Homo sapiens: one gene and its partners. The protein of the gene in region 2 purifies or fractionates together with the protein of the main gene of each other region. This does not show direct contact. Each region holds a gene or a part of one and is shown on either strand. Other genes may lie near its edges.

Evidence for each region.
Region 1: the proteins of SCLT1 (region 2) and LUZP1 purify together in Homo sapiens (affinity purification with mass spectrometry; one large-scale study listed by BioGRID and IntAct). This does not show direct contact.
Region 3: the proteins of SCLT1 (region 2) and WASHC3 purify together in Homo sapiens (affinity purification with mass spectrometry; one large-scale study listed by BioGRID and IntAct). This does not show direct contact.
Region 4: the proteins of SCLT1 (region 2) and TPP2 purify together in Homo sapiens (affinity purification with mass spectrometry; one large-scale study listed by BioGRID and IntAct). This does not show direct contact.

What each region holds. Positions count from the first base shown.
Region 1 is NC_000001.11:23,090,613-23,099,001, forward strand, and holds part of LUZP1 (leucine zipper protein 1), read right to left. Parts: intron 3,769-8,389; 5' UTR 3,650-3,768; coding exon 578-3,649; intron 1-577.
Region 2 is NC_000004.12:129,000,140-129,008,528, forward strand, and holds part of SCLT1 (sodium channel and clathrin linker 1), read right to left. Parts: intron 3,738-8,389; coding exon 3,602-3,737; intron 1-3,601. UniProt on the Homo sapiens protein: Adapter protein that links SCN10A to clathrin. Regulates SCN10A channel activity, possibly by promoting channel internalization.
Region 3 is NC_000012.12:102,010,340-102,017,554, forward strand, and holds the end of WASHC3 (WASH complex subunit 3), read right to left. Parts: intron 2,854-7,215; coding exon 2,769-2,853; 3' UTR 2,501-2,768; downstream 1-2,500. UniProt on the Homo sapiens protein: Acts as a component of the WASH core complex that functions as a nucleation-promoting factor (NPF) at the surface of endosomes, where it recruits and activates the Arp2/3 complex to induce actin polymerization, playing a key role in the fission of tubules that serve as transport intermediates during endosome sorting.
Region 4 is NC_000013.11:102,638,485-102,646,873, reverse strand, and holds part of TPP2 (tripeptidyl-peptidase 2), read right to left. Parts: intron 6,605-8,389; coding exon 6,498-6,604; intron 3,653-6,497; coding exon 3,498-3,652; intron 2,318-3,497; coding exon 2,201-2,317; intron 1,966-2,200; coding exon 1,865-1,965; intron 581-1,864; coding exon 484-580; intron 1-483. UniProt on the Homo sapiens protein: Cytosolic tripeptidyl-peptidase that releases N-terminal tripeptides from polypeptides and is a component of the proteolytic cascade acting downstream of the 26S proteasome in the ubiquitin-proteasome pathway.

The DNA of each region.
Region 1 (8,389 bases), on a different chromosome or scaffold from region 2:
ACAGCTGTCTGGGGGGCAAAAGAAAGTGTCACTTGGAATTGGGTATACGCTTATCTAAAATAGGCCCAGTGTAAGCCCCGGCTCTCCTCATCCCTGAGAGGCCAGCAGCCTGTGAAGATCTGCTAACTGAGGCGGCCGAGAACTTGCTGACCTGGCTCCCCCTCACTGTGCCCTACAGAAAGGGCACCGGGCCTCCTCCTGTTGCCCAGAGCTCCCCATCAGCTGCAGCTGCTTCTTGTGCTTTTCATGCTGTTCTGAGGGCCTACGGGGAGCTCCTTTAGCTGCTCTGGCAAACCAAGGGAAGAGAAGACAGATTTCCTTTTTATGTCACCTTCATATACGAGAGCAAAATGAAGACAACAAATTGGAAAAGGGATTTTGGAAAGTGATGCTGCCAAAAACCTTCTTTAGGAGAAAGGTCAAACCCCCCTGATTTTTCAACAGTTCTCTAAGGAACCCAGTTCTACTCAGTTCTCAAGATCCTGGGTCACACAGGCCAGAGCAGAGGGGAAAAAGGAAAAGGCAAAGAAGGAAAAGGGAGGGAGAAAAGAGAGAGGGGAGAGAGGCTGGAACTCACCATGCTTGCTGAGTGGTTCCAGGCTGCGACAGTGATGGTGTCTCCTACCCGATTCCGACGGGTAAGCACCTCTGACACAGTGAGGCTACTTTGGGTCCTTCTGGAGGAGGGCTCAGGGGCATCCCCTGAACTTGGTCCTACCCTTCGAGTGCCCTGCTCAAAAAGGCAGGACCTGGGCTGTTCGAGTTCTGAGAAGTCTGTGGAAGACCTCTGGGTGTAGGCATTGCTATTGGTAGATTCCACGTTTTTACCTATTCGAGTTGGGGGGTCTTCTAAAGATTTCAAGTCTCGCCTACTCTTCCAGGCATTCCGCACAGTAACATGTCTGGCATCTGAGAAGCCCACTTCTGAAGGGGCACTATGGCTTTTCCACCTGATTGTCTCCGCTGGAGGTGCATGGCTATTCCTCTCCACAGGATCCGATGGCTTGATTATAATGCTGCTCCGAGAGACCACTGTTTCTGGCCTGTCCTTCAGGGGCCCATCTGCCATTCTCTCCGCTTCTGCAAGCTGCAGGGTGATGTCATGTTTGTGAATGGAGAGCTCAAAAGGGGAGCTGACATGGTTGCTAACTGATGTGAGCTCTGCCAGCCCCACCTGGATATTGCTAGTGGATGTGTGCCTCTCCCTCAGGGCCTCACCCGGAGCAGCTCTGGGGCTGCTGCTGTCAGATGGATATATAGTAATGCTACTTGTCACTTTGTTTGGCCCTGGTTTGGAGACGGGTTTCTGTTTCTCCAACGTAGTCTCTGTTCCAGATCCTCCCATGATTTTTTTCACATCCTTATCAACAATAACAGGTTTGATGATGGCTCTAGACCGCAACGCCTCTCTGGGGCTAAAGGGCCTTTGGCTTTTTACCCCAGCACCATTGGTATCTGGGAGCTCCATGGTATTGGTGGAGGCTCTGACAGATTTCACAGATTCATTCTCCATTCCAGCATCTTTATCATTCTCAAATAGGGAGGTTCTAGGTGCCCCTCGGGTTTTAGCCTTTTCTCTAGAGTTAGGCTGTGGTTTGGGCTCTGGCTCTGGAGTGATGGTTGTATTTACCAACTTGGCAGTAACAAGAGATGCTATGTCCAAGTCATCATCTGAGTCTGGCTTCTCTCTGCCACTGGATTTGATGACTCGACACCTCAAGGCTTCATGCGGACTGCTGTCTTCCATCACAACTGCTGCAGGTTGATTAACCCCTTCTTTATGTGAGGTTGAAAATCCCTGAAGGATGTTCTCTTGGCTTCTACAGCTATAAGGATACTTCGATAGAACAGGAGCCTTGGAATTCGGGCAACTGTTATCAGCCTCAAGGCCATTGGCAGCCTTTTTGCCTTTAGAGAGCCCTTCTGAGGAGGATCTTCGAGATGAGGCCAGGGCTCCAATGGCCTTAGAACAGCCAGAGTTTGCAGCCTGAGTTACTTGACTTCCGTTGCCAAGCACGTGTCCCCTCTTGCCAAAGACAGTCTCAGAGGAGGTGTCAGAAGCCTTGTCAGCTCTACCCAATGGGTCACTGGGAACAGATCCATGGGTGGTGTCACTAAACGTTCGTGTTGTCTTCTCCACTTTTCCCTTCAGTCCGCTCTCGGTGCCTGGCTTGGAAGTCCCCTTCCACGCTTTACTGTGCTCCTGAGCAGCCGGGGGGTAGCGACTCAGCACTGAGGGCTGCTCCCTAGACTTCTTCCCTTCGCTCTGGGAGGAGCCGGGTACAAACCGGTCTTCAGTTTTCTTTGTCTCCTGAGTCCCACTGTCTGTACTCACCCCCATGTGAGAAGCTTTTGCTGCCCTCCTGTTGGTGAAACTGGGAGAAGAAACCTGCCTGTTGCTCAGAGAATAGTTTTCATTGTTGAGAGCAAACTCCCTGTTCCGGAGTCGTTCCCGCTTATGCTGAGGAGACAGTTCCCGCGCTGTGTGCTTGGACACAGAAGCTTCACTTCCGTGGCCTCTAAACTTAGTCCTCTCATGTCTGCCTTTGCTGGACAGGAAAGCATCTTCCCCTTCTACCTCTCCATTTTCTAACTCTTTCTGTTTCTTGATTTGTAGCTTTATCTCCTCCAGTTGGCTGGCTAATAATTTGTTTTTATTTTGTTCACTTAGGTAATTATCCTGAAGGTCGTTATTTTTGGACTTCATTTTCTTAAGCTCTTCTTCCAACGATTCAAAGTGTTTGATTTGTGTCTTAAGTTTCTCAATCTCTTGGTTAAGGTCTTTGACTTTGTTGTCTTCCTGATTGCGGTTCTTTTCATTTTCTGATTTGTTTCTTGTTTCATTCTCTACCTGCTTTAGGTAGTCCAGACCACCCTTCCTTCTTGATTCTTTGGACGGCAGTGTGGAAGAGATGCCATCCTCAATCCGTAGGTCATTTCTTTCCAGATTAGAAGCATTCCTTGTATAATCTCGGTTCATTTTTTTGTTCTGCTCTAGTTTTTGAGTGAGTTCTTTTATCAATTTCTCATTTTCTTTCTCCTTTTCATTCAAGTATTTTCTCTCACTTACAAAGCTCAGAGTTAATGATTTCAGCTTTTCTAACTCTGACGCTAAACTCTGCTCAGTTTTATCCAGGCGGTCCTCAGAAGATTCTAGTTCTTTCACTTTGACTCTGAGCATTTCCAGCTCAGAGGAGATTTTCTTGGTCAGATTTCTCTCCTCATTCAGGCTCAGACACAGCTGGGTACAGTCATTCTTACTCCTGCTGAAGGCCTCTTCTAGCTTCTCTAATTCAGCCATTCGTTTCTGAAGCCGCTCAATCTCAGATTTCAGCTCCCGGGTGAGGTTTTCTTCCTCTTCAAGTTTCTCCTTCATCAGACGACACAGATCCTCTGCTCTCTTAATTTCCTCGTCTTTGCCTTCAATTCTCAGCACCCGCTGGCGCAGCACTTCAATCTCCGCCAACATGCTGGAGTTGCTACCTTCTGCCTGAATCACCTTGTCCTGGAGATCCAGGAGTTCATCCTCTGCTTTCTGGAGGTTTTTTGTGGCTTCCTCCAACTCATCAAGGCGGCGGCTTAGACTCTGTAGCTTAAACCGCAAGTGGCGGCTGGAGGCCGTCTCCTTGTAGCTTGTAAATTCGGCCATGTCTACTGCCAGCCAATGTGGGCTCCTAGAGGCATCCAATTCCACTCAAGGGGATGAGAAATGGTTACCTTTCTCTTGGCAACCACAATCTTCTTTGACAGCTGGAGACCATCATCAATCTACAAAAGGAAAGTAGAAAGCATGTCAGTCAGCAAATGTAAAACCTGCACGTTAGCTCCCAGTTATAGAAAAGTGCTCCTATCTGTTCCTGGTGCCTGGATCATAGCAGGGGCTCAAACCTGTTGAATGAATGACTTGAATAAACCTGCAAGAAAACACTGGTTCTTTATGGCCGATATTGAGTTGATACCTCATTTCGCCCTAATAAAGAATGTCACCAGTGGCAGCATGGCAAAAAGACATATAAGAAGCCTCAATTTTCATGGCAGGGTATAATAACATCATTACCATCTGCAACCTGCATAATCTCAGGAGAGTCATTAACAATGGAAACTAAGTCTCAGTTTTACTTAGTGGTAAAATGGGCATAATGATGTCTACCGTATTTCTCCCCAGTGTTGTTCTGAGATAATATGTGGAAGATCTTGGTAACAAAGCAATAAACAATCCTAAGATTTTTTTTTTTAAAGATTATCTCTTATGAGCTATTGTGACTTAAAAGTGATACAAATTAACCCTCTGCCTTGCTATAAATGGTGAGCTTCACAATATACTAAAACAATCTCTCTACACCCATTTTCAACATCTCTTCTCCCAAAAGTATATTTGTAAGTGGAATTCAGGTGTGAGTTGGCCCGACCCAGCCAACAGGCAGCTTCTACAAAACATATCCTTTTGCACTGTAAAAGAAATGCCCCAGATGTTAAGGTTGGTATGAAGACTGGTTTGTTTCTTTGAAAGCCATTTCACTGGGGATATATACCAAACATATAATAATACCCCAAGGAAATAGAGAAAGGGGAAGGTTTAGTTTTTTTATGTAATTTTCTCATTTTTAAAACAGGAGAATGGATTGATAAATGTATTTTAAACAGCTTTCATGAACAATAAGTCCTACGAAATTAAAAGGCAAACAACAGACTTCCATTTCCACCACTACAGCAAACCAGATAACCTGGAAAACCTCTAATACTATAAAACAGCTAAAAATACTGAATAAAATGTAACAATCACTTAAAATGTATAGTTGATCACATAGAAAGTAAGTGACATTCCAGCTAAAACCAGAGGAAAAGAAAACTAAATGAAAAATAATAGTAAGTTTAAACTACCACTGAGCTGTCCTTCTTAGGGTCTTGCCGATCTCCAGAACCAAGGAGTTTGGGTTCTAACAATCATGCAGGTATAAGAGGCAAGAGTTTGGGCTCAATAGAGGTGGTAAGTTGAAAATGAGACTCCAGTCCCCAATCTAAAGCAAGGATTATTGAAGAACTACAGCTCCAGGATAACTAGTGAAAAAAGTCACCTCCCTGATATAGGGAGATAAGAGGACCCGGGCTCTATTAGGGGTTAAAGGAGGATTATCCCTAGAGAATTTATAATCTTAGACCTGCTCTCACTTGAATTCAGAGTTCAAATTTATACCATCTGAGTGGTCTAGAACCTATCTGTCCTGAGAAACTAACATAAAATGGCCATCAGCCTAGTAATATCCCTGGGAAACCTAGCTGAGCAAACAAAAGTACTCTGGAGGGAGCCACTCTCTACAGAGGTCACACAGGATTCCCACAGATTAAAGTCCAGCTGAACCTGAGCTTATAACTAAAAATTACAAAACACATAAAGATCCATCTTTTACTTGACTGGGCAGAGCAAGTCAAGTAAAAAAGAACCAAAGTTACTAAGATTATTGGCTAGAGACCATACAATAAGTACATTCCAATGTTTAAAGTCATAAAAGAAGGAATGAAAAAAAAAAAAAACAGGAGAAAGGAACAAGGTGCTATCAACAAAGATCAGAAGATCTGAAAGTTAACTAAATACAACAGCTAGAAACAGAGAAGAGAAATGGCATATTAGAGGCAAAGGAAGATATTAATAGTGGTCAAGAGAGATACGTAATTACAAAGAGCAGCACAGAGTTAAAAAGATGGAAAAGGTAAAAGAGAGGTTAACAGATGGGGAAATAATTAAAAAGGTCCAAAACAAGGAAGTTTTAACAGGCAGCCCAAAAGGATAGAATACAGAATAGGGAACAGGCAATATTTGAAGAGCTAGCAGGTAAGAATTTTCAAGAGTTGATTAAAGATATGGACCTCACATTCAGGAAGCAATGTCCCAACAGGAGAAAACTAAATCTGCACCTAGGATTTAGGATCGGAAGAATCCTAAATCCTCGTAAGGATACGGAAGAATGTATCACAAACAGAAAATCTTTAAAAAGAAAAAAGAAAAAAAGACCATTGTCTCAGTCCATTTGTGCTGCTGTAATAAAATACCTGAGGTAGTAATTTATAAGAACAGAAACTGGCCAGGTGCGGTGGCTCACGCCTGTAATCCCAACATTTTAGGAGGCTGAGGCAGGAGGATCACTTGAGGTCAGGAGTTCAAGACCAGCCTGAACAACATGATGAGACCCCATCTCTACTAAAAATACAAAAATTAGCCAGGTGTGGTGGTGCACACCTATAATCCCAGCTACTTGGGAGGCTGGGGCACGATAATTGCCTGAACCCACGGGACGGAGGCTGCAGTGAGCTGAGATCGCGCCACTGCACTCCAGCCTGGTCGACAGAGCAAGACACCATCTCCAAAAAGAACAGAAATTATTTCCTCACAGTTCTGGAGCCTGGGAATATAAGATCAAGGCACCAGCAGGTTTAGTGTCTGCTGAAGGCCCAGTCTCTGCTTCCAAGATGACACCTAGAATGCTGTTTCCTCACAGGGAAGAAGGAATGGAACAAAAAGGGTTGAACTTGCTCCCTCAGGCCCTTTTTTAAAGGTGCTGATCCCTAATACTATCTCCTTAAAGGTCCTACCTCTTAATGCTGTTGCACTGGGGGTTACGTTTCAACACGAATTTTGGAGGAAGCAAAAACATCCCAAACACAAAAACAATCTATAATAACAACTGAACCACTTCTCAGCAGAAACTTTTAAGTAGGTGGCAAGTAGAATGGACTACAGGGGATAAGGTTGGGAGCAGGAAGACCAAATAGGAGGCTATTGCAGTAATCCAGGCAAAACATAGTTATGGCCTAGACCAGGATGGTGGCAGTACATGCGTTCCAAGAGCACGTGACCAAGACAGTTGAGAAATGGTCAGAATTCTGGCCGTATGAAGGCACGACCAAAAGATCTGCTCTTAGACTACATGTGAAGCATGAGGCAAAGAAAGGAATTAAGAAGCCGAGTGCAATGACTCATATCTATAATCCCAGCACTTTGAGAAGCTGAGGTGGAGTTCAACACCAGCCTGGGCACAACACAGTAAGATCCCGTCTCTATAAAAAAAGGTAAAATAAAATAAAATTAGAAGGTACAGTGGCATACACCTGTAGTCCCAGCTACTTGGTAGGCTGAGGCAAGAAGACAGCTTGAGCCCAGGAGTTTAAGGTTCCAGTGAGCTATGACTGTGCCACTGTACTCCAGCCAGGGTGACAGAGCAAGACCCTATCTCTAAATAAATAAGCAGATAGACAGATAGATAGATAGGAATTAAGGTAGACTCTAAGGTGGCTGGGCTGAATTTGTAGAGGGACAGCATTACCATCAATTCAAATGGAGATGACCGCAGATGGAGCAGTCTGAGAAGGAAGATGAGGAGTCTCATTTGGGACATGTGTATGAGATGTATATTAGATGTATAAGGGCCCACTTGAAATTCCTGGTAATGATTTAAAGTGAAACCAATCCACAAAGTTCTTTTTCTCCAGTCTTGTTCAGCTGGCTGAACAGACAAAAGAATAGAGAAACCAGAATTGGACTGAACCAGATCGAAGCACTGCAGAACAAAGCAAAAGAAGGACAGGAGAGCAGAGGATGTGTGTGAGGGACTTTAAATTCACTCAGTACAGAAGGAGGTGAAGAATAGTGAAAATATAATAGAAACTAATGAAGTGAAGGTCCCAAGGGGACTTGAAGGCTTGTTGGAGTAAGGGTACCAGGTACCAGAGGAAACTAAGCCTGAAATATAGAAGAAAGAAATCAGAGAGGGACTTCAAGGAATTGAAATCATGGAGGGACTGTAGTTATTGATAATGTCAAAAACGAAGGTATAATCATAGGAATCCTGTGGGGGAGTAGGGAGAAGTAGAGAACAAGATCATTAGAAGAGAGAAATAATTGAGAGGTAAAGGTGTTGCAAGGGTCACCAGCATGTAAGCGCCATAAATTAACAGGAATAATGCTGGAAAGAGTGACGTTAAGACAGAATCTGAAGTTGTTGAGAAGTTAGGGGCAGTGACTCAGGGCGTCGACAGACGGCAGCAACGATAGAGTATTAGGTGATGTCGTCCAATAAGATCACATTTAAAAATCAAGGACAAGAGTGAAGAAACAGTCTGAGACATAAGAGAAAAACAGCCACCACTGGAGAGGGAAGAAATGACTCCAACAATGATCCTATGAGAAAGCTCAGGGCAAAAGAAAAACAACTGAAATTGGGCCTGGAGGAGACGCCAAATGCCAATTCTCTCCAAGCCTGATTCTTCTAATGGCTGCACTATAAGCCTAGAACCACCAGATGGAGCCCAAGCTCAGCTCCTCAAAAACACCAACGCTTGAAGGTGTTGAAAAAACCAAGCCTTCCGCTTCCATTCAGATTCTGCCCACCCCGAA
Region 2 (8,389 bases):
GTACAATATTTTTTTCCTGATCATAAAAGTAATAAATTTTCATTGTGGAAAATTAGGAAAATACAGAGAAAAACAGGAGAAAATCAGAATCACCTATAATTTTACTACCTGATAATAAATATTGCTAATATCTAGATAAATCATCTTTTTAAATGTTGATGCATTCATGTTTATAAATGTGATTCTGGGTGAGAATTTTGTAATTATTTTAACAAAATTAGGGACAATATAGTGGGCTATTTTTACTTGCCATTTTATAATGATTTTATAATTATAATTTTCTCAGGTCACTATTGTTTGCATACAGTATTATCTAAGTGTGGTACAGAAACTTTTAAACTTTGAAAGGTCCTAGAAGTCAAATTTATCTTCAGAATAATATGTTAACATTTTTCGCCTTTTTACTCTCATCCTCTCACAAATGTACAGTGAAGTTTTCTAAAGTTTATATGATGTGATGCCATCCTTGCTCTAAGGGCTAATGGACTACATGCTTATGCTCCTACTTTTTTTTTAAGTCTCAGTTTTAATTTGTAATACAATAAATACTGATAGATATGTAACCCACAAAAAACATAAGGCACCTTGGAGTACACTGAGGTATACCATGCATTCAGAAAATGAACAAATTGTACATTTTTATAAAGCAAGTGCGCTTATGTAACCAGCACCCAGTTCAAGAGAAAGAACATTACCATCACCTAGAAGCTGGACGACCCTCTTGTGATCTCTTCCAGTTACTATACTCTTCTCCTAAATAACCATTTCCTCGTGTTCCTAACACCATAGATTAGTTTTGTCTAAAACTTAAAAAAAAAAACAAAAACTGTAGGCTAATTAAAAATTTTAAAAGCGGTTTTAAAATTTGTAGATAAACACAGAATATGGAGCCAGAAGATATGGGTGTGATCTCTAATTCCTGGCTAAATAGTCCTGGATAATTCACTTCATTTCCTTAAGACTCAAGTTTTCTTTTCAGTAAAATGGTCGTAAAAATGCCTCATACCTCAAAATGTCCCACTGTTTCTCCAGACCTGTCTGACGACAAAAATCACCTAGACTAGTAGTTACACAACCCAGATTCTCCTAGAGCAGTGGTTCTTAAAGGATCAGCATCATCAGCAACACCTCAGAACTGTTAGAGATGTAAATTATTGAGCTCTTTCCCAGACTTCTTGAATCAGAAACTGGGGTGGTGGGGGGGTGGGGAGGCACAGCAGAAATCCATGTTTCAAAAAGCCCTCAAGTGATTATGATGTACACTATATAATTTTTAAAAATGGTACAACTTACTATTTGGACAAACTACAATTTAACTGATTCCATATTTAAGATTTTTAAACTATGTCAAATGTTTCATTACGATAAATATTATAATGAATATATTTATTCAAAAATTTTTATATTCAGTTCTTTAGAACAAATTCATAAAATCTATGTGGTGTCATCATCTAATTACTGGATCAAATAATGCAAACATTTCTAAGGCTCTTCTTCCAAACTGACTTCTAGAAAGATTTCTACAAATCATACTGTAACAGAAAAAATATTTTAAACTGAAAATATTAAGCTAGGTACTTAGCATTGTGCTATTGCTATTGGCTCCTAAAGCAACATATATACACTACACAGCACCTTTTGTACATAATTTTAATTCTTATTTGTGAGTCTTGCTGTTCAATAATGATAATAATGATAAATAGGCAAATTTATTAACGTACATATGTGCTAGACATATAAGCCTAAATTAATTTCTATTTAATCCCATGAAATCAATTATAAATCTTTCCTAGTCTAGAACAAACAGCATGCTTTCCTCATTATTTCTTTCTTTCATCATATTTAAAAATTCTTTCCATTCATACATTAAAAAAAATTAGTGTTAAATACATGTTCCTTATCAAGCTAAATATAGCCTTTCTGACTTACCTAAAATATCACTTTCATAATTATAGAATTTTAAAACCAAATTTTCAGGAAATAAAACCGAATTTTCAGATAATTATCAAATCAAAATTGTAATTTAGAATTTGTAGCCCCCATTTATAAATGAGGAAACTGAGGCACAAGAGTTTTTTTCTATGATCACACACCTGGAAAGTAGAAGAATGGGGATTTAAACCCATACAAGATATGAAACATTTGGGATATAACACTGTAAATTTAAATACAATTCCCTTATGAATAAAATTCACAAAAAATTAGTTGAAAAACAGGATATATTTAACATAGCTGCTCAAAGATTCTAATTACTATGAGAGAAAAAGAAAAAGTATAATTCTAGAAGAAATATAATGTTAGAAAAATATAGTACTCTTAATATTCTGAAAACAATATCAGAAAAAAGAACACTGAAAAATACAAATTTAGAGAAATAATGGATTTTTTCCTTTAAAAATTTTCATTGACATTAAAATATTCTCTCTACAAAGAACTTAAACAAATTTACAAGAAAAAAACAAACCCATCAAGAAGTGGGCAAAGGAAATGAACAGACACTTCTCAAAAGAAGATATTTATGCAGGCAACAAACATATGAAAAAAAGCTCATTATTACTGGTCATTAGAGGAATGCAAATCAAAATGACAATAGAATACCATCTCATGCCAGTTAGAATGGTGATCATTAAAAAGTCAGGAAACAACAGGTGCTGGAGAGGACGTGGAGAAATAGGAACACTTTTACACTGTTGGTGGGAGTGTAAATTAGCTCAACCATTGTGGAAGACAGAGTGGCAATTCTTCAGGGATCTAGAACTAGAAATACCATTTGATCCAGCAATCCCATTACTGGGTATATACCCAAAGGATTATAAATCATTCTCCTATAAAGACACATGCACATGTATGTTTATTGCAGTACTATTCACAATAGCAAAGACTTGGAACCAACCCAAATGTCCATCAATGATAAACTGGATAAAGAAAATGTGGCACATATACACCATGGAATACTATGCAGCCATAAAAAAGGATGAGATCATGTCCTTTTCAGGGACATGGATGAAGCTGGAAACTATCATTCTCAGCAAACTAACACAGGAACAGAAAACCAAACACTGCATGTTCTCACTCATAAGTGGGAGTTAAACAATGAGAACACATGGACACAGGGAGGGGAACATCACACACCAGGGCCTGTTGTGGGGTTGAGGGCTAGGGGAGGGATAGCATTAGGAGAAATACCTAACATAGATGATGGGTTGATGGGTGCAGCAAACCACCATGGCATGTGATACCTATATAACAAACCTGCACGTTCTGCACATGTATCCTAGAACTTAAAGTATAATTAAAAAAAAAAAAAAGAAAAAGAAAAAAAAGAAAGAAAAAATATTCTCATAAGAAAAAAACTCACGTCAAAATCTTTATGATTTTAATTAAACACATTTGTAACAACCAGTGAGGGTATTTGGCAAGTACGTTTCTAACAGTGAGGGTATTTATTACAAGTGTTGCTACCTGTAACGATTCTTATAAACTGTAAAAAATCATAATGTTACAATTTTATTATTTTGTTATCCATAAATAATGATTAACATGAATTTTTAAAAAGGTATGTTAATTCAGAATATAATTTTTAAAAATACATGTCACTCACTTGATTGGCTAGCTGCAATTGTTCTTGAAGGTTTCTGACTGTTTCATCATCTGCATATATGTCAGTTCCTACCTCTGTGCCCAGGGGAAAGGCCTCCAATTTTTTTTCAACAGCATCTTTTAATTCACTGTGCAACCTTTGAAACAAATAGTTAACATGATAGCCTCAAGTCATTTTCGTAACAGTAATTACTGTTTCGAGGTCAATTAAACATTTGGGTCAACAATAACTCTTTAAACAAAATCATTTTTAAGTAGACTTCAAATAAAAAATTAGAAGTGTTTAATTACCATTAAATACTGTGCTATAAGAATCAAAAGATTATATAACAATTTCAATGCATTAAATCGATCACAATTAACTGAAGCATGATTCAGTTTGTCCTAGAGAGGTTTCAATTTTTCAAAAATTTTCAAAAGAGTAAAATTCAGATATTATCTCTTATTAAATGATAAAATAAGCCATTCAGAAAAATTCTAAAATATCTATGTATATCTAGTCAATTAAATGAAAATTATATATTAAATCCTGTAGAATTATTTGCTATTTTCTTCAGCGTGTTTCACCAAACTCACTGGACTTCTTACTAATTCCAGTTAACAAGCAAAGAGAAGAAAATGGTCGCTGGCTATAAAACCAAGACATCAGAAGCTTTATTTTTCAGCACATCCTTATATAAGATCAACAATAATACTGAAAGGCTTAAAATTGACTTTAATCTTAACATTAAGGTAAATTACAGATATTTCATGCCTTAACTACAAAAAAAAGCAAGGAAGGTACAACTTAAAAGAATGATTGTTTTAATTTAAAATAATACATACTTAAGAGAAAAAAAGTACATTTTCAGAAAACACTCTTATTTCATATAATCATAAGCAGAAAATATTTATAGTAAATACATTACAAAGTGAAAATAACAAAATAAACTACATCCATCTACCTAAAACATTTAGAGGTGAATGATTTACTAATATTACAAATCTCCTTTGAAACAAGAAAACTTAAATCTTGATGTCAAAACATATTTATTGAAAACAAAATTCATCAAATACAATAAAACTGAGAAGGTAAACACTTTAGAAACAAAAAAATTAATTACTCTGAAGAAAGGACAGAGCTTGAAAATTATTCTCTAATTAAAAAACTTACAAGTATTGGTTAAGACAGTTTTTATTTTTAAATATCTAACAGTGTTTTTAAAAACTTTTATTTTTCCTATATGAAATGTTTACCTAATAGAGAAAATGATCAGTATAGAAATATAACAAGTTTTAGAAAAGATACCCCAAGTCCTATGAAAAAAACCATTATTAATTCTGTAATATATTTTCTAGCAGAATTTTTACTTTCCATTAAAAATAGACCAATGACATACTGTATTGCTAATACTATAATCTGTCTTTTTAACCGTAGTATTCAGACATATGCATTCTCTCACATTCTAAAAAGTTTTCTGCAAATATTTTAAAGATGACATAATATTCCATCATTTTCATCATATGGTTATCTGCATCATAACTTATCAATTATCCTAATCCTTTAAATTGATTGTAAAATGAAATGAAAAAATAGTAAAATTAATATTTAGTACACTGTACTTTAAAATATCAGAAACACTGAGAATTAAAGTGTCTTATTTCTTTGTTACGCAGCCAAAAGACACATGAAAAAATGCTCATCATCACTGGCCATCAGAGAAATGCAAATCAAAACCACAATGAGATATCATCTCACACCAGTTAGAATGGCAATCATTAAAAAGCCAGGAAACAACAGGTGCTGGAGAGGATGTGGAGAAATAGGAACACCTTTACACTGTTGGTGGGACTGTAAACTAGTTCAACTATTGTGGAAGTCAGTGTGGCAATTCCTCAGGGATCTAGAACTAGAAATACCATTTGACCCAGCCATTGCATTACTGGGTATATACCCAAAGGACTATAAATCATGCTGCTATAAAGACACATGCACACGTATGTTTATTGCGGCATTATTCACAATAGCAAAGACTTGGAACCAACCCAAATGTCCAACAATGATAGACTGGATTAAGAAAATGTGGCACATATACACCATGGAATACTATGCAGCCATAAAAAATGATGAGTTCATGTCCTTTGTAGGGACATGGATGAAATTGGAAATCATCACTCTCAGTAAACTATCGCAAGGACAAAAAACCAAACACCGCATATTCTCACTCACAGATGGGAACTGAACAATGAGAACACATGGACACAGGAAGGGGAACATCACACTCTGGGGACTGTTGTGGGGTGGGGGGAGGGGGGAGGGATAGCATTAGGAGATATACCTAATGCTAAATGACAAGTTAATGGGTGCAGCACACCAGCATGGCACAGGTATACATATGTAACTAACCTGCACATTGTGCACATGTACCCTAAAACTTAAAGTATAATAAAAAAAATTCATTTAATAAAAAAATGTAGTTATAACAAGCAGTATAATTATAACTGACAGTAAGACAGTTTTTAGGGTCTTAAAATTTTTAGCCAGGTTCGGTGGCTCACACCTGTAATCCCAGCATTTTGGTAGGCCGAAGTGGGTGGATCACGAGGTCAGGAGTTCGAGACCAGCCTGGCCAATGTGGTGAAACCCCGTCTCTACTAAAAATACAAAAATTAGCCGGGCATGGTGGCGTGTGCCTGTAGTCCCAGCTACTCAGGAGGCTGAGGCAGAAGAATTGCTTGAACCCAGGAGGCGGAGGTTGCAGTGAGTCAAGATCAAGCCACTGTACTCCAGCCTGGGCGACAGAGCAAGACTCTGTCTCAAAAAAAAAAAAAAAAAATTTAAAGGTCACAGAAATATCGTAATTGTCCCCCATTGATTATTAAGATAATTTTGTACAGTTTCAGCTTGCAAGGTCATTTTTTTAATCTTACACTTCATACAAAGGAAGGACTACCTATACATAGTTTAATTTTGTTTGCTTCAGTATCTGGCATACTTGGGGAATAGATGTCCAATCTTGCGTTTCTAATGCTTGCTGTCTCTCACCGAGTGTGCTCTGTTCCCGAGGTGTTATATGATTTTGGGTTTAGATTGCTGTTCTTTTTCTAACCTCTTCAACAAATTCTAAGACATCATTATTTTTAGACTTTCTTTTCTAATACATACTCTTAAGATTACAGCTTTCCCTCTAAGAATCGCCTTAGTGGCAACGCCGACGTTATGTTATTTTCTTTATTAATCAGTTGAAAATATTTTCTAACTTCCATTGTGAGTTCTTTGACCTGTGAGTAACATTTAGAGGCATACTGCTTAACTTAGAAAAAGCTGAGGATTTTCTAGTTACCTTTTTATTATTGATTTCTAGCATAATTTTCACTGTCATCAAAGAACATAATCTGAATAATTTCAATCCTTTTATAATCTGAGAGTTGCTTTTTTTTTGAGTTGGTCAATTTCAGAAAACTATCACGTGTACTTAGAGAATGCATATTTTGAAGGTCTTCGGTATTAGTATTCTATATATGTCCCTTAAGAGATTTCTTAATTGCATTATTCAAATATTGCATCTTAACTTACTGTTTTTTTTTCTGGTTGCTATTTTATTTACTGAGAGCAACCTGCTCATATTTCCTATTATAATGGTGCATTTGTCTGTTCTGCCATTCAGTGCTATCACATTTTTGTATTCTGAGTCTTTGTTATTGAGTGCTTACACATTCAGAACTGTCATATCTTTTGGGCAAATATAATTTCGTATCATTATGGAAACCGCCTTTTAATCTGTAATCATCTGTTTCACATTAAATTCTACTATGTCTGATATTACCAGCATGTTTTCAGTTAGCACTTCCATGGTATACATATTTTCTATCCTTTTATTTTCACCCATTCTGTACTCTTGTATTTTACGAATCTCCTTGGTTAAAAGCATGTAATTGTGGGTTCATTTAGTTAATCTCTGGTAAATCACTCTTAAAATTATAGCATGTAGTACAGCAAAATTTAATGCAATTACTAAGGCATCTGGGTTTATATCTACTACCTTAGTATTTCCTATATGTCTTGACTTTAAAAAAACAAAACAAAACACCTCTCTTTTTGTTCCTATTCTTTCTTATTAACTGGAATTAATTACATTTTATTATTCCACTTTCCTGCTCCATGAGCTTGGAAGTGATAGAATCTTTTAGTTTACTGTAGTGCTCAGCCCAGACATCGTAACATGCCTCTGAGAATTGCCACCCTCTACTATAAATTAGTATCCTATTTCTAATGGATAATGTAAGCACCTGAGACTATCTCAACTCCATTTACACTCTTCCTAAATGTACGGTATTGCTGGCTCATATTTCAAGTCTCCTCAAACATTTTAAAGCCATTATTATTATTTTTAAAAGTTTATACTCGTTAGATTTTCTCCCATATTTACCCCTTCCATAGTTCCAAACTTTATTCTAGGATGATTTTTCCTTCTTTTTTGGGATTTGGATTAATTCTGTCAACGGTAATTTTCTCAGTTTTCATCTGAAAATGTACTTATTTAACCCTCCTTCTTGAAGAACATTTCGCTGAGCACACAATTCTTAGTTGACAGTTTTGGTTTCTTTTCTTTTCAGCACTTTGAAGATATTCCATGTCTCTCGATTTCTATCACATCTGTTGAAAAGTCAGTTATCTTACTGCTATTCCTTTGAGGATAATCTCTGTTGTGAGAATTTTTCTTTGATTTTGATTTTGTAGATGTTTTTGCATTATCATGCTTGTGATGCATGGTGTTTCTTTAATCCACAGATCTTTTGCTACTTTTGA
Region 3 (7,215 bases), on a different chromosome or scaffold from region 2:
GACTGCTCATGTCTGTGGGACAAAAATAGGAAGTAATATGTTAACATGAGGAGCTAGGGTTGTGATTACAAAATGAAACAGGAAGAATGTGTCTAGAACGCAGGTGGTTCACTGGGGCATGTCGTGGTGCTTCAGTGCCTGGTAAGAAACAGCAAACAGATGACTGTGATAATCATAGCCTAAACAGGGCAAAGCAATCAAAGCCCTAGAAAACTTAAAGGATGAAGGTCTGGGTCACTATGCTTGACAACCAGCCTAGACCAGCGGAATTTCTGATATAGAGCAGGAGAAATGTAAAATGGGTGGTGGAAGAAGATGATAAGTACCAGTTTTGGCCTTGCGTTCAGTCATAGTGACAGTAATTGTGGCTTGTCTCACTAATCTTCATGTGTAGATTTTAGAAAGACTGTGGCTGGCCATCACCTTGTGTTATCCCACAGACAAAAGACAAAGTAGACTTAACATGGGACTCAATCAGTTCTGAATTGACTGCATTTGGGTAGACTGCAGCAAATATCTCTTTTGCACATTCCCTCGTCCACTTCCGGTATCAGTCACAGCTACATGGATAGTTCTAGGTGAGTAAGCTTGGACTTGTCCTTTCTGCTTGTGAAATCCCACTGCAAGCCGAAGCCATGTATCTTTCTGCTTCCTGTTCCAAGTCTTTCTTCAACACTGGGGTGCTGCTTTTCCACACAGAAGCACAGCCCAGAAGTGCAGGGATAATTAATGCCCCTGGAGGCAACTCAACTAACGGGGGATGGAAATTGCTTAATTAATGTTCCCAGTTTTATTAGGTGGAAAATTTTGGGAGGCATTCTGAAAGCTTCTCAGAGGGTCTTGGAGCACTCAAACCCCAACTGGCAATCTTGATAACATACTTCTTAAATTTTTTATTATTTTTGAGAGAGTCTCACTCTATCACCCAGGCTGGAGTGCAGTGGTTCCATCTGGGCTCACTGCAATCTCCACCTCCTGGGTTCAAGTGAGTCTCCTGCCTCAGCCTCCCAGTAGCTGGGAGTACAGGTGCATGCCACCACGCCCGGCTAAATTTTGTATTTTTAGTAGACACAGGGTTTCACCATGTTGGCCAGGCTGGTCTCAAACTCCTGACCTCAAGTGATCCACCTACCTCAGCATCCCGAAGTGCTGGGATTACAGGTATGAGCTACCTCACCTGGCCGATAATAAACTTTTAAGTGGTTTTCTCCCTTTTCCTCTCCCTGTTTTTTTACTTCTGTTTTCTGGGATCACCTTGTGAATGACCTGTATACACCCAAGTCCTTTTCTCAGGCTCTACTTGCAGGTGAACTAAACTAAAATGGGCACAATTAGTTAAATGCATTTATATATTTTTCACATAAGTACTTTAGGAATTTTCTAGACTGTGTGTAAATAACTATGAATAATAATTATTTATTTGCAAGGTGAGGTGAGAACATTTTAATCCTGCACACATTTTTTTTTGTTTAGGTAATACAGGAGTTGATGGCAACGATGGTTACTCATTATGAACCACACTGAAACGACCTTCAATTCAATTTCCATCTGCTAATAAATATAGTCAAGTGCTGCATAATGTTTTGGTCAACATCCCCTAAGATTATAAAACCATATTTGACTGCACCTTTTCTACATTTAGATACACAAATACCACTGTGTTACAACTGCCTACAGTATTCAGTACAGTGACATGCTGTGCAGGTTTGTAGCCTAGAAGCAATAGGTTTGTGTAAGTACACTTGTTATGAAATCCACAATGTTTGTACAATAAAACCGCCTAATGACGCATTTCTCAGAACATATCCCTGTTGTTAATCAATGCATGACTGCATAAGAATATCTGACTTAAAAAACACATGAACTAATGGCCAAGTGGTGAAAGGCTGCATATGCTAAAAAATACTACCAAAAAGTTCCATACCCATAACATATGTGATATGTAAGTTTTAAGTTGTCAAAGAAATTTCAACCCAGTATTACTTTCTACCAGAAATGTCTTTAACAACTCATGATATGAATCCATATACTTTTCATGCTAAAATATTCACAAAAATTGAATAATTCACTTAGCCAAATTCACTGTTTTTTTTTTTTTTTTGCATTGGGTCTACTATTGATCACTAAACTCACACTGACTTCATTTAAAATTGCTCATTGCATCTCTTTTTATTTTTAAGACAGAGTTTCACTCTTGTCGCCATGGCTGGAGTGCAATGACGCAATCTCAGCTCACTGAAACCTTTACCTTCTGGGTTCAAGTGATTCTCCTGCCTCAGCTTCCCGAGTAGCTGGGATTACAGGCACCTGCCACTACGCCCAGCTAATTTTTGTCACCACGCCCAGCTACTTTTTGTATTTTTAGTAGAGATGGAGGTTTCACCATGTTGGCCAGGCTGGTCTTGAACTCCTGACCTCAGGTTATCCACTCGCCTCGGCCTCCCAAAGTGCTGGGATTACAGGCGTGAGCCACCGTGCCTGACTGTAATTGCTCATTGCATCTCTAAAATATTCTATCTTAGTATTTGTAGCACTAATTGTACTTTATTTAGGTTATCCTATTTTTCATTTTGAGGCCCTTTATTTTAGCAACAAGACATACTGGCAGGTTAAAACTGCTTTATTATTATTTTTTTAACATAGAAGAAGCTTGGTAGTGGACATGTGGCCATTTGATGTTTTTATGACTAAGAGAGTTCAGGCTCAATCTCTTACAGAATGTAAATGTACCCCTATGCATGCATATGTAATTCTTATCAAAATTAAGCTTAATCACTAAAAGAAGATTCGCTATCTGAACTTTCTTCTACAGTTTTCTCACTTTCGCCATCAGGCACTGGAGCATCTGGCCTCCTAAAAGAAAAGAAAAAAAAATTTCAAAGGTCTTTTCCAATTGAAAAGAGCACTTACAAACTCTTAAATTTGGTTCATCTTAGAATATTGCTGCTAATAAATCTGCCAAGTCCGTGTCCTCAGTCTCCTGCTCTACACCACAGCGTGCTTCTCTCGGGCTTCTTGGGCACCATGGGGATTCAATGCTATGCCTGTAGAGGCCGCGACAGTATTTTCTCTTGCCAGTCCTTACATAGTGCGCTACTTCAGCACTTTCTGCTTCTCATTACCATGGAGACCCAATTATAGACAGAGATGTGATCTGTAGAGGCTGGCATGACCAGTGCTAAGTCCCTGAAGCTTCCAAGTGTACATGAGGTACAGAGAAAGGAAAGCTAGAAATGAAAAGAAAAGGAAATGCTTCATGTTCAGGAAAGCTGCAGGGAGAAACTTAGAAATGGAAGAGAGTTCAAAAATGGCTAATAAAAAAATAGGTAATGTGGAAATTTTGTAGCGAAGGAGAGTGCCTGGTCGAAGAAGGTTCTTAATGTTTGTTAAACGTTTTCACTTACATGTTTTATCTTTACAGAATGAAAATAGAAAGTATGAGTTGGCAAAAATACTGTTTCAAAGATCCCCTAGGCATTATAAGGAGACATGAGAATGGTTAGATTCCAACTTTGCATGGATGTGCTCTAATAAACCAAAATGAAATTTTAATGATGTTATTAAAACAGTCAACTAGTTAAGCCTCAATAGTTTTGTGCCAGTAAGTCATTTAATCAGTGTAGTGGCATTATCACTTAGCCTCTATTCACTCTTACCAAGAAAGTAAATTAAGCAAGAAAAGTATTTTTGGGGGGGAAACCAAGAGGAAAAGGAGTAACAATATAACTGCTACATCTTTTTTTTTTTTTTTTTTTTTTTTTGAGATGGAGTCTCGCTCTTGTCACCAGGCTGAAGTGCAATGGTGTGATCTCGGCTCACTGCAACCTCTGTCTCCCAGGTTCAAGCCATCCTCTTGCCTCAGCCTCCCGAGTAGAGGTGTGTGCCACCACGCCCAGCTAATTTTTGTATTTTCAGTAGAGACGGGATTTCACCATGTTGGCCAGGATGGTCTTGATCTCCTGACCCTGTGATCCACCCGCTCTGGCCTCCCAAAGTGCTGGGATTATAGATGCGAGCCCGTGCCTGGCCTATAACTGCTGTATCTTAATAATTACAAACTACCAGACTGATTTCTCCCTCAGGCTTGACTCTTATTAAACATTTAGGACACTTAAAAATAAAACTCATATTCACCACAAACAGAAATTACTATTACTAAAATAAGAAAATGCACAGTCTAACAGTTACTTTAGGTATTAAAATTATGGCTTATATTTTTAAATATATTTGGCATACTACAAAAGAGAAAATAATGCTGGCATTGCTCCCTAGTTGTCAAATATAAACCCATTTGCTCTGCTGAACAATTTTAGATTATATCTACAAGGAAGCATTATGTAGTCAATACAGTGAAACTTTAAAGCTGGGTACAGCAGTTCCAGGATTTGACTGATGCTCCATCTGCCTAAAATACTAACATGGGACCATCATCTTCCTCCCTTTTCATTAGAAGCAACAACTCTAGAATTAGTGGGTATGAATACTAGGCACATTTTACCCAGTAAATTTCTCTTTGCTATATATTTGATTTCTTACTGTCTATACTTTGTTAAGTAGGAAAACATTACCAGTGGGAATTATTTTAATACCACATCAAAATTGTATTAGTACCTATGACAACTCAAACAAATACAACAATGTACATAACTTCCTAAAATAAATGCTACTTTAGAAAAGGGTAGGCCAGGGATGTCGATTCATGCCTGTAATCCCAGCACTTTGGGAGGCCGAAGAGGGCGTTTTGCTTGAGCCCAGCAGTTCAAGACCAGCCTGGGCAACAGGGCAAAACACCATCCTTTGCAAAAAAATAGAGAAATTAGCCAGTAGTGGCCTACTGTGCCAGCTACTTTGGAGGCTGAGGTGTATCACTTGAGCCTGGGGGCAGAGGCTGCAGTAAGCTGTGACCATGCCTGGGCACTCCAATCTGGGCAACAGAGTGAAACCCTGTCTCAAAAAAAAAAGGAAAAGGGTAAAAGCAGCTTAGGACCAGAAGAAACTGAAACTATAAAATTCATTAATTTATGTGTGTAACCATTTATTGATACATGTGATGCTATATTACATAGTAACTAAGAATATAGGCTCTGGGTACAGACTGTGCTAAAATCCCATCCTTGTTTCTTACTTGTTGGCCAACTTTGGGGAAGCTATTTAACTACTTTGTGTCTGACTGATTGATTGGATTTTGTGATGATTAAATTAATTAATAAATGTAAAGTGTGTTCGATAATATCTGGCACATAGTATCAGATAAATATTATCTGCTGTTATTATGATGATTTATTTTCATCATCATGCATCTACTATTTGCTAGAAAATGTGTTAGGTACTGGAGATACAGAGATGAATAACAAGTAGTTCCTTCCCTGAAGCAGCTAAAATTTTTGTGAGGGAGACAGAAATGCAAACAAATTGTTACAGAATGTGAGACAGCCATGTGCCACATAATGATGTTTCAATCAGTGATGAACTGCATAGGACGGTGGTCCCATTAGATTATAATGGAGCTGAGAAACCTCTATCGCCTAGTATTTACTATACTGTACTTTCTGTTATTTTATTTTATTTGACCAGAAGTCTCATTCTGTTGCCCAGTCTGGAGAGTAGTAGTGTGATCTCGGCTCACTGAAACCTCTGCCTTCTGGGTTCAAGAGATTCTCCTGTCTCAGTCTCCTGAGTAGCTGAGACTACAGGCATGCGCCACCACCCCTGGCTAATTTTTTTACTTTTGGTAGAGAGCGGGTTTCACCATGTTGGCCAGGCTGGTCTTGAACTCCTGACCTCAAGTGATCCATCTGCCTCAGCCTCCCAAAGTGCTGGGATTACAGGCGTGAGCCACAGCGTCCAGCCTCTGTTGTTATTTCATTTTATTTTATATTTTTTTCAACAGAGTCTTGCTCTGTCACCCAGGCTAGGGTGCAGTGGTGCAATCTTGGCTCACTGCAATCTCTACCTCCAGGGTTCAAGCCATCCTCCTGCCTCAGCCTCCTGAGTAGCTGGGATTACAGGCATGCACCACCATGCCCAGCTAATTTTTGTATTTTTAGTAGTGATGGGGTTTCTCCATGTTGGCCAGGCTGGTCTCGAACTCCTGACCTCAGGTGATGCACCTGCCTCAGCCTCCTAAAGTGTTGGGATTACAGGTGTAAGCCACTGTGCCTGGCCTCTGTTGTTATTTTAGAGGGTACTCCTACTTACTTTTTGAAAAAAAAGTTAACGTTAAACAGCCTCAGGGAGGTCCTTCAGGAGATATTCCAGAAGAAGGCATTGTTACAATAGAAAATAGCAGATTCATGCCTGTTATTGCCCCTGAAGACCTTTTAGTCAGACAGGATATGGAGAACAGTCATATTGATGATCCTGACATGACTAGGCCTTGTATGTGTTTTAGTTTTTGGCAAAGAAGTTTAAGAAGTCAAAATAAAAAGTTCATAGAATAAAGATATAAAGAAAGAAAATATTTTTGTATAGCTGTAAAATTTATGACTTGTCTTTTAAGCTAAGTAGTATTACAAAATAGTTAAAAAGGTAAAAAGTTGATAAAGTTATAGTAAGCTAAGGTTAATTTATTATTGAAAAAATTTTTAAAAATAAATTTAGTGTAGTCTAAGTGTACAGTGTTTATGAAATTTACAGTGGTGTATAATAACATCCTAGGCCTTCATATTCACTCCCTATTCACTCACTAGGTGACCAGAGCAACTCCAGTCCTGAAAGCTCCATTCATGGTAACTGCCCTATGCAGGTACCATTTTTCACTTTTTATACAGCATTTTTACTGTACTTTTTCTATGTTTAGATATGCTTAGATACACAAATACTTGTCATTGTGTTACAATTGCCTACAGTATTTGGTATAGTAATATGCTGTACAGGTTTATAGCCTAAGTGTGTAGTACGCTATACCATTTAGGCTTGTGTAAGTACACTCTATGACGTTTGCACAATGACAAAATCACCTACAATGCATTTCTTGTAACATATCCCTGTCCTTAAGCGATGCACGGCTGTATATATACAAATAAGGCTGAACTGTTTGTGTGAAAAGAAAAAATAGTCTGCTGAAGTCGGTCAGAGAAGACTCCAAATAGTTGGAAACACTTGCGAAGAGTTTTGTGATTCGAGTAAGACTTTGCCAGAAACAGAGAAGGCGGAAATAAAAGAGAATGACAGCATTCTGGGTAAAGAATAAAATGGGATGGTGTAGCAGGCTGC
Region 4 (8,389 bases), on a different chromosome or scaffold from region 2:
GTTTCAGTAACAGTTTTATTGAAATCTCATTGATCTTACAACAATTCTTTGGTCCAGCATTTACACTGGCCTCCATTACTTTTGCCACCCATCCCACCTGGGAGCTACTCTGACCTTTCCCTGTTCCAGTGCCTTCTTCGCAGAAAGCAATCAGGCCCAGCACCATCACCAGAAGGCAGATGGTATTTCTGAGCCATCTAATCACCCCTGGGTCAGATGGCACCAATGGACAGTGATCAGTGATTTTATAAACTAAGGCTTAAGGCTAGGTCACCACTCAATTACATTTTGTGACTTTACAACTGAATGGTATTTAATTACAAATTATAATTTCCTAAAGAGTAATTCCAAATTAACTGTTAATCACTTGATTCTGTTTTTTATATATACCATATACACTGTCCTTCCATTTTTGATTCTATGAATCATAAATAAAACACAAAAGTTCATCCTAAGGGTACACTTTACTAGGCAAACACTTACTTGATGAAAGTTATATGTCAGGACCATCTCATAAAGTTGACGGTTATTTGGCAAAACATCTCTTGATCCTAAAGGTTTTGTTTTTGCACTCACTGGGCTGTAATGAGGAAACTACATAACTGGTTTGATTCAAGAGTTCATTGAATGAGACAAATAAAACCATATGCAACAAAATCTGTAACATATTGCAAAAAGTGCAGATGAACCTTCCTGAGAGCTATCCTTTTCAGTATACTCTACAATATTTTAATCACTAACTTACATAATTATTTGATTGAATCATATCAATACATACAGTTTAGATTTTGCAATAAATATGACAAAGGCAATCTTTTCATGGCAAAAACATTTTCAAATGTGAACAAACAGCTCTCAATACAACCAAATCCTAACACTAGGGTGACAACTAAAAGTGTTGCAAGACAGGTTCTGATTTGTACCCCTTGTGCAAACTGTTGACAGTACTGTGTTGTGTGCAGCACAGACCTCCCCAGACCCCTGCTGCTCACCAGATGGCAGGGGCCACACTCAGCCCTCCTCCTGGCCGAGGGAATGTTATTTCATATTTTTAGTAGTCCTCTGAAGGAAGTTGCTAATGTACAGATTTTATAAAGGAGAAAACTGACACTGAAGAGTAAGTTTTAAATATAGTTTAAAATGTCAGTGAAACATAATCTACTCTAAATTTAGCTCCAATTTTTTAGATTTAGGAAGAAAACATCAGGATGATATAAGTTGGATATATCTTCAAAAGCTGGATGTTTTAATTTTTATTGATAATTCTAGGAAGCAGTATATCTTTAGACATCACCGTGTCACTGACTATTGTCCCTAATTGGTTATTTTAATACACTTAAGACTAGGCTTCATGCCGATGAGTTAAGGTCAGATTAAACAAAAGAAACCAGGTATCTTTATAACACAGTGAGTATGTGAACACAGGTCAAGGTGCCCTGCTTTTGTAAGGGGAGCTGCTGAGGCACAAACAGCAGGCTACAGTACTTAAGTTTCTACCATTTAATAAACAGTTTCTAATGGTATTGCAGTTTCTAAAAATGACTGCATTAGGATTCACAAAATAATATCAGAGAGAATGTTAACTTGCTATTTTACAGCAAGAAATAAAAAGGTTAATGTCCACTGATCCTAACTAGTCATGACTGGGATCGGCTATCCACCATCCTTGACTTTGCTGGTCAGGTGGGACAGTGAAGCTAGAAGCTGATACTGGGGCTGCCTTGCAGAGATCTGCTGGCAAGGATAAAATTCTCACCTCTAGCATGCAGGTGGATTAAAAAAAAAAAAGGCCCTTTTTTAAGAGTGTAAGAGATCCCCCCAATCTATATTCAATATCTGTAGTTCCTAAAACATTGAATGATACCGCAGTGTTTGGACCCAGTTCTTCAAAGTTATGCAGGGAGCCAGATCTTCGTATTTCAAGGAGGACTGAACATCAAAGCGGTTGATTCCTTCCGATGCATGCTACAAAGGATTTCTCAAATTACTTTCTCAAACTTTACTAAAAATAAGCAATATTTTGTACCTAAAATAAATGTGTCCAATATAAAGTTTATAAGTACCCACACACAAAGCCTACTGCTATCTTCAGAACCACAGGTAATTTCCCCTCATTAAAGTTTAAATCTAACCAATGAAGTTACTCTCCAGTAACACAAGTAACTGACATTAAAAATCATGAAAATGTTGTGGAACTTACAATGTTTAACTGAGGAGCAGTACACACTATCCCATGGAAAGAAATGGTATAATCAATGTTGACATCACTGAGACTTGCCCACCAACGAGCAATGCAAAATTCAATTGCTTTTCCACCCTGCAAATAAAAGTAAATAAAATATATCTCTTTTCTTATTTTTCTCAAATTACAGAATATAAATACTAGCTGTTTCAGAGCAATTCTGTTTTCAAACTTTTCCTGTTTGTAGCAAGAAAACTCAAAAATTTTAACAGCTATGCTAAGTAAGAGTTAGACAAATCATTTGCAGAGATATGGTGTATTTAAATATACATAGTTATTTACTCATAACCCTATGCTTCTTGTCATAAAAGATCCTAGGCAGCTTCTGAAAGCACATATAATAAAGCAAATGTGATTTTATTATTTCGAAGTGAAATAAAAAATTAGGACCAAAAGAAAAATAATCAAGTATAACGACACAATAAAGATACTTCAACTTTGTAAGGCATACTCAATAGGCACAATTGAGTTTGGGCTCACAGCTACCTGGCAACCAAAACAAAATGACATTATGGTCATTTACATCTTTCTCCCTATTAAAAAATAAAGATAAGGAAAAGGAAAAAAAAACACCTGCTCTTAGCACTGAGTTTTAAAGTAAGTTTTCTAGTAATCAGTGATTTAAAAGTTTAAAAAGATGAAGCAACACTGATCCATGGAAGAACACAAATGAAAGTAACCAGAAACCAAGAGATACTGGGAAAATCCCAGAACCAACTGAAAACACAAAGGAGCGCATTGAAGGAAGAACATCAGTACTTTCACCTTCTATGGAAGAAAGACTAGTCATCATTTCCAACACCACAGATAAGAATGCAGTCTGCCATCATCTGAGATAACTTAGACATGAAGCAGTAGCAGTTTTCCTATAATGCAAATTAGCCTCATAGCTTAACAACACAGCATTAGTAAAATAAGTTAAGTGACAAGCAAACAGGTCTTAAAGAAATTAATCTATAGTACAACAAAGAATAATCTAAATCAGGGTCCTAACTACAAGGCACGAGAATCTACCAGACTAGTATGTTTCTTTGACTATGCTATTCAAGAATTACAGCCATAATTACCTCCAACTTGATTTCAAGTACCCTGATTAGATTTTCTATTTTTCTACTTCATTTTTTTGGCATTAAAAAAATATATAATCCCAACATGCTAAATACAAACTATAAAATCAAATGCAAATACTTAGTCTTAGCCCATACCAAAAAGGCAAATAAATTGTGTTAGGATTATAAACTATAATTAAACTTACTAGGACAGGAAAAGCTTCAGTCAGTGTTCCTTTCTCTGGAAGAGAACAAAACTTATAGAATTCATGGCTTCGATATGCTCTTTGCTTCACAAGCTGGACTGCATGTAGAACAAACTTTGCTGACACCTCAGAAGAACACGAACACACTGTCACTTCTAAAATAAGAAAGAAAGAAGCAAAGCTTTAAACTTATAAGACCTAAAATTGACATAAAGTGGCTTTAATAATGCCCACTTAGGGATAATTCCCATGTAGGGACATAATAGGGATCAAAAATAAAATGTACACTCAAATCTGCATATTTCCATAAAAACAAAGAATCAACAAAATATTAATAAAGGTAGAAGACTAGAAGATTTTCTATGGGAACGAAAGAAACTGGTATTAAAATGAACCACCACCATGAGGCTGCAAACACCTGGAAACAGCAAGCTGTCCATAGATGCATACACAATTACATTAATCGGGTACCTTTTAAAATCCCTCCTTGTTTTAGCTGAAAACCAGTCAATTCCAGATAAAGTAAGGAAGGTTATATTTTTGGAAACCTCTATTTGTTATCATGCCTCAATTCCTCATTGATAACTTTTCCTAATCTCTCTTCTTGGTCTACTTGTGTACTGTGTGCGTCTACAAAGCCTGGCACGACTACTTATGCTTAACTTTACTCTGAGCCAGCGCTGGAGGTAAGCCAAGATCACCGCAATGCCAGATTGGCAGCTTTTCTAAAGAACACCCAAGCTAATTCAAGGGAACTGAAGCAAGGCGCAATGCCGTGGCTCATAAAACCAGGTGTGCAGAGAGCTCTCAGAACCTAGTCAGTTGCTAAGAATACAAAATCTAGTGTTATGACAATATTTCTAATTATTTGAAATAAAACTAAGACTGTTAAATTCTCTTAACTACTTGCATTCTAGATCATTTGATAATTTTTATTTAAAAAAACAAATTATTTTCAATACCAACCTAAACCAATCATAAATCAGTGCCATTTATCACTAAACAAGTACCCAATTCAGTATTAATTAACCATAGATTTGTATTCTTTAATTTACCAGTGCACATTTTACCAGAGCCTGGAGCTCTACAAGTCCCAGGGGCCCTATGAGAATGGGACCCCAGGAATGCTGAACACAGCAACTCTGACTCCACCCTCTAGAAGTACTGTCAAGTGTGAGCGTAATCCCAACGAAGACAAGCTATGTACCAAGTACTATAAAATCCCTAATCCTTACAACAGACTAACGACTATATTTACAGTTGAAACAGAAGTCCAGAAAATTTAGAAACCTGCCCCCAGGTAACCATTAGCGTATGGCAGAGTGTGGATCCAAACCCAGACTTCTCAATTTCCAAAGCCCGTGGCCTTGCCGCTACTCTGTGCTGCCTCCCTCTAATCCAGTTCTCTTAACTGCAATATCTTGGACTAGATGCTCTCAAGGCCTCTGGAAGCAGGGTCCTTGTCTAAGTAGCTCACCACCTTAGCCCACTGAAAAGGGCCTGGCACAGATGGTACAGAAAAATATGCTTAATGAATGAGTGTAGTACAACCCGATTATCCTCAGAAGCCTCTCACTGCTGCAATAGCTCCATTATAAACCAGTGTGCAAATTAACAGGCTATATTGGGTGCTGTTCAATTCACTGCTTTAGCTCTCAGCTTTTGCTATTATTTTGCCTTTACCTAATTACAAAAAACAAGAAAAGTCTGGTATTTCCTGTGATACCAGGTGACAAACAGATGGACAGCATACAGATAGATGACCAGAAAATGGTATGGGGAACCAAATACAACCAGTTATTCCCAAACCAAGTCATACATGTGTGATTTCAATATTTCATTTTCAATAAAGTCTCAGATGTAAATATATCTGTACTTTCATACAAGTACAAAAAACACACTCCTAAGTAAAATACAAGCCATTTTTACTAATGACACCTATCTACCTTATAGGGTTCTGACGGGACTAGACAAGATAATCTCTGTAAAGTGCTTAGCAGAGGGGCCAAATCCAAGAAGTATCAACAATGCTGGCTACTAATTTAAATTGGGTGACACTTTCTTGACTGCCCGTATTTGCTTCCTTCTATCAATGGGAGTGAGCTCTGACAACTGACATACCCTTCTATACTGACTGCTAAATTGTAAATTTAGGACACACAACTTGTGAAGGAAAATATGGTACACCCACAGCTCTTGTAAAAAAGAATGACATGAGCACTCTCACAGGACTATAACATGTTAATTCAAGAGCTTTGTGTTAGGCAATCATTTACTCTCAAAATTTCAGAGACACTGAAGTGAAAATCTTCTATAAACAGAGCTTCAAAGATTAAAGCTCTATTTCTAAAATTCTGAGAGTTTAACAGTTTGAGGTTTAAGCAACAGCTGCATTGTTTAAACTGATTTGTAGTATTTTAAAAATTAGGCCGGGCACAGTTGCTCATGCCTGTAATCCCAGCACTTTGGGAGGACGAGGCGAGTGTATCACGAGGTCAAGAGATCGAGACCATCCTAGCCAACATGGTGAAACCTCGTGTCTACTAAAAATACAAAAAATAGCCTGGCGTGGTAGCACACGCCTGCTAGTCCAAGCTACTCGGGAGGCTGAGGAAGGAGAATCGTTTGAACTGGGGAGGTGGAGGTTGCAGTGAGCCGAGATCATGCCACTGCACTCCAGCCTGGCGACAGAGTGAGACTCTGTCTCAAAAAAAAAAAAAAAAAAAAAAAAAAAATTATTACCAGGTAAGGCATTATTCTAAACTAAGCTCAAACCTTAAATATTAAAAACATCTTAAGATGGCTTAATTTCCTGTATGGGCCAATGCAAAATTGTACTAGATCTTAAAAACGTTTTGAACTTTACAGAAAGTCTAAGGTACCCAAATACATATATTAGTACCAGGGAAATACATGCTACAGATAAACGAACCTCATACAGCTATAGTCATTAGAACGTAAACAGAGATAAGCGGTCACACAGATTTTAATTTTACCTACCAGCCCATGTTGCACCCTCAGGAACCTCAATAAAATGCCTTCGAATTTGACCAGGTTTAAAGTGTACATCTGTAAAGGCTAGATCATAATGTGATGATTCATTTACTCTGAAAATTAATAAAAGTAATTAAATGTATATATTTATTATAAGACCACAGATACTCTAGATTTCATTGGATAAACGCAAAATAACAATTCATTGGAAATAAACACAGGGACTTAGAAGCTGGTTACAAAACAGTAGGTACGATATTGTTCAATTTTTGCAGTAGGTTAGCAGAGATAACCTCTGAATAGCAGAGTATAGATGATTCTACTTTTTGCCTATTTTATGATTTGTAAGATACATTCACACACACTATTAAAAAAGCATTCTCTTTTTTGTTAAAGGCATTCTACAACATTCACAGAATTTTCCAATTACCAGATTCCAAACTACAGTGAGTCCTAGATATTAAAATCAATGATAAAGTTTTATGTCACTGGTATTATAGCTATGAGACTTGTGTTAAATTAAGCTCCTCCTGTAGCTTCAAAACACTCCCATGATGTAAAACAGTAAAGAAAGGCAAACTACTTTCAAAGCACTTTTGTAAGAAATCAATGAAATAAAGTTCAAATGCATAACTACCCACCACGGAAACAAATTTTATGCTAGAGACAAATTCTTGTCAGTAGGACAAACGGTTAAATGAGTGCCTACTACATGAGGCCCTGTTATTAGGAGCTAGAAACGTAACAAAGAAGAAAATATGATTCTTTAACCTAGACAATCTAGCATGGAGAGAATCATCATCAGAGACATTTAACATAAGATGCTCCAGATAGACAAGAAGAGTTACGGAGCCTGGGAAGCTTCCTGAAGGAGATGGCGTGGCAGCTGACTCCTGAAGGTCTTACACATTACCTGGTCTAAATTACTACTGGACTTCGAGGGAATATACGGCTGAGAATTTAACTGTTGCACAATTTTTCCACATGTATACCACTTTTTAAATTTATTCTCCTCAATTTCATCCTGTGTTTCTCATGGGCTGAGATCTATTGCATACTTAATATTTACCAGAGTAACAGAACTGTTAGTTTAGAATTTCCACTTGGTTTCCAGTACTCTCACAATCCCAATCTCACCTTCATCCACTAGATAATTTATTTTATACATCCTGTATAACAGTAGTCTCTGTGCCTTCGGTGGGCTCACAGTGAAAGAGTGTAAGTTAAATAAAAAATTACAATATATTGGCTAAAGTCTGTCCAGGGGCACGTAAAATGTGCCACGAAGCAGAAAGAAGGGACTCCCTTCACCCAGGGATGACCAGGAATGCACCTGGTCATTAACTGAAGAGACAGGAAATTGAAACCAAGTTATCAGCTGTGCACATGCACAAATCCTGAGAATCCTCAAGTGCCAAAATCAGTGAGTTGGCCAAAATGTGTAATTTGGTGTACGGAATGACAGGAAACACTGGCTAGGGCTATAATTGTGAGGGAGCATTGTTTGCTATTTTAAGGAGCTTGAACTTGACCTTTGGAGGTGCCACTGATATACTTTAAGCAGGAAGTAATATAATCTGCTGATTTTTCCTTGGTTCCAGAGGAATAAGATGGGAAGTTAAGAGTTTCTTAACTTCTGCTTCTACAGTAGATAACTAGAAAAGTGGAAGCATTAAGAGAAGAGAGTAAATCCCAAAAACGACAGAGACAAAAAGGGCAGGAATGGAGGGGAGTGAAGTAATATTGTCAAATACTACAGTGGGATCGGGTCAGACGAAGCCTGAGTTATCCTCTGAACTGGGCAATGCAGAGCTCAGAGTGACTGTGGTGGAAATAGTTTTGATGCAGAGGTAGGGCAGATGCCAGGTGCCATCAGTTACTCTCAGAGCACACAAGAG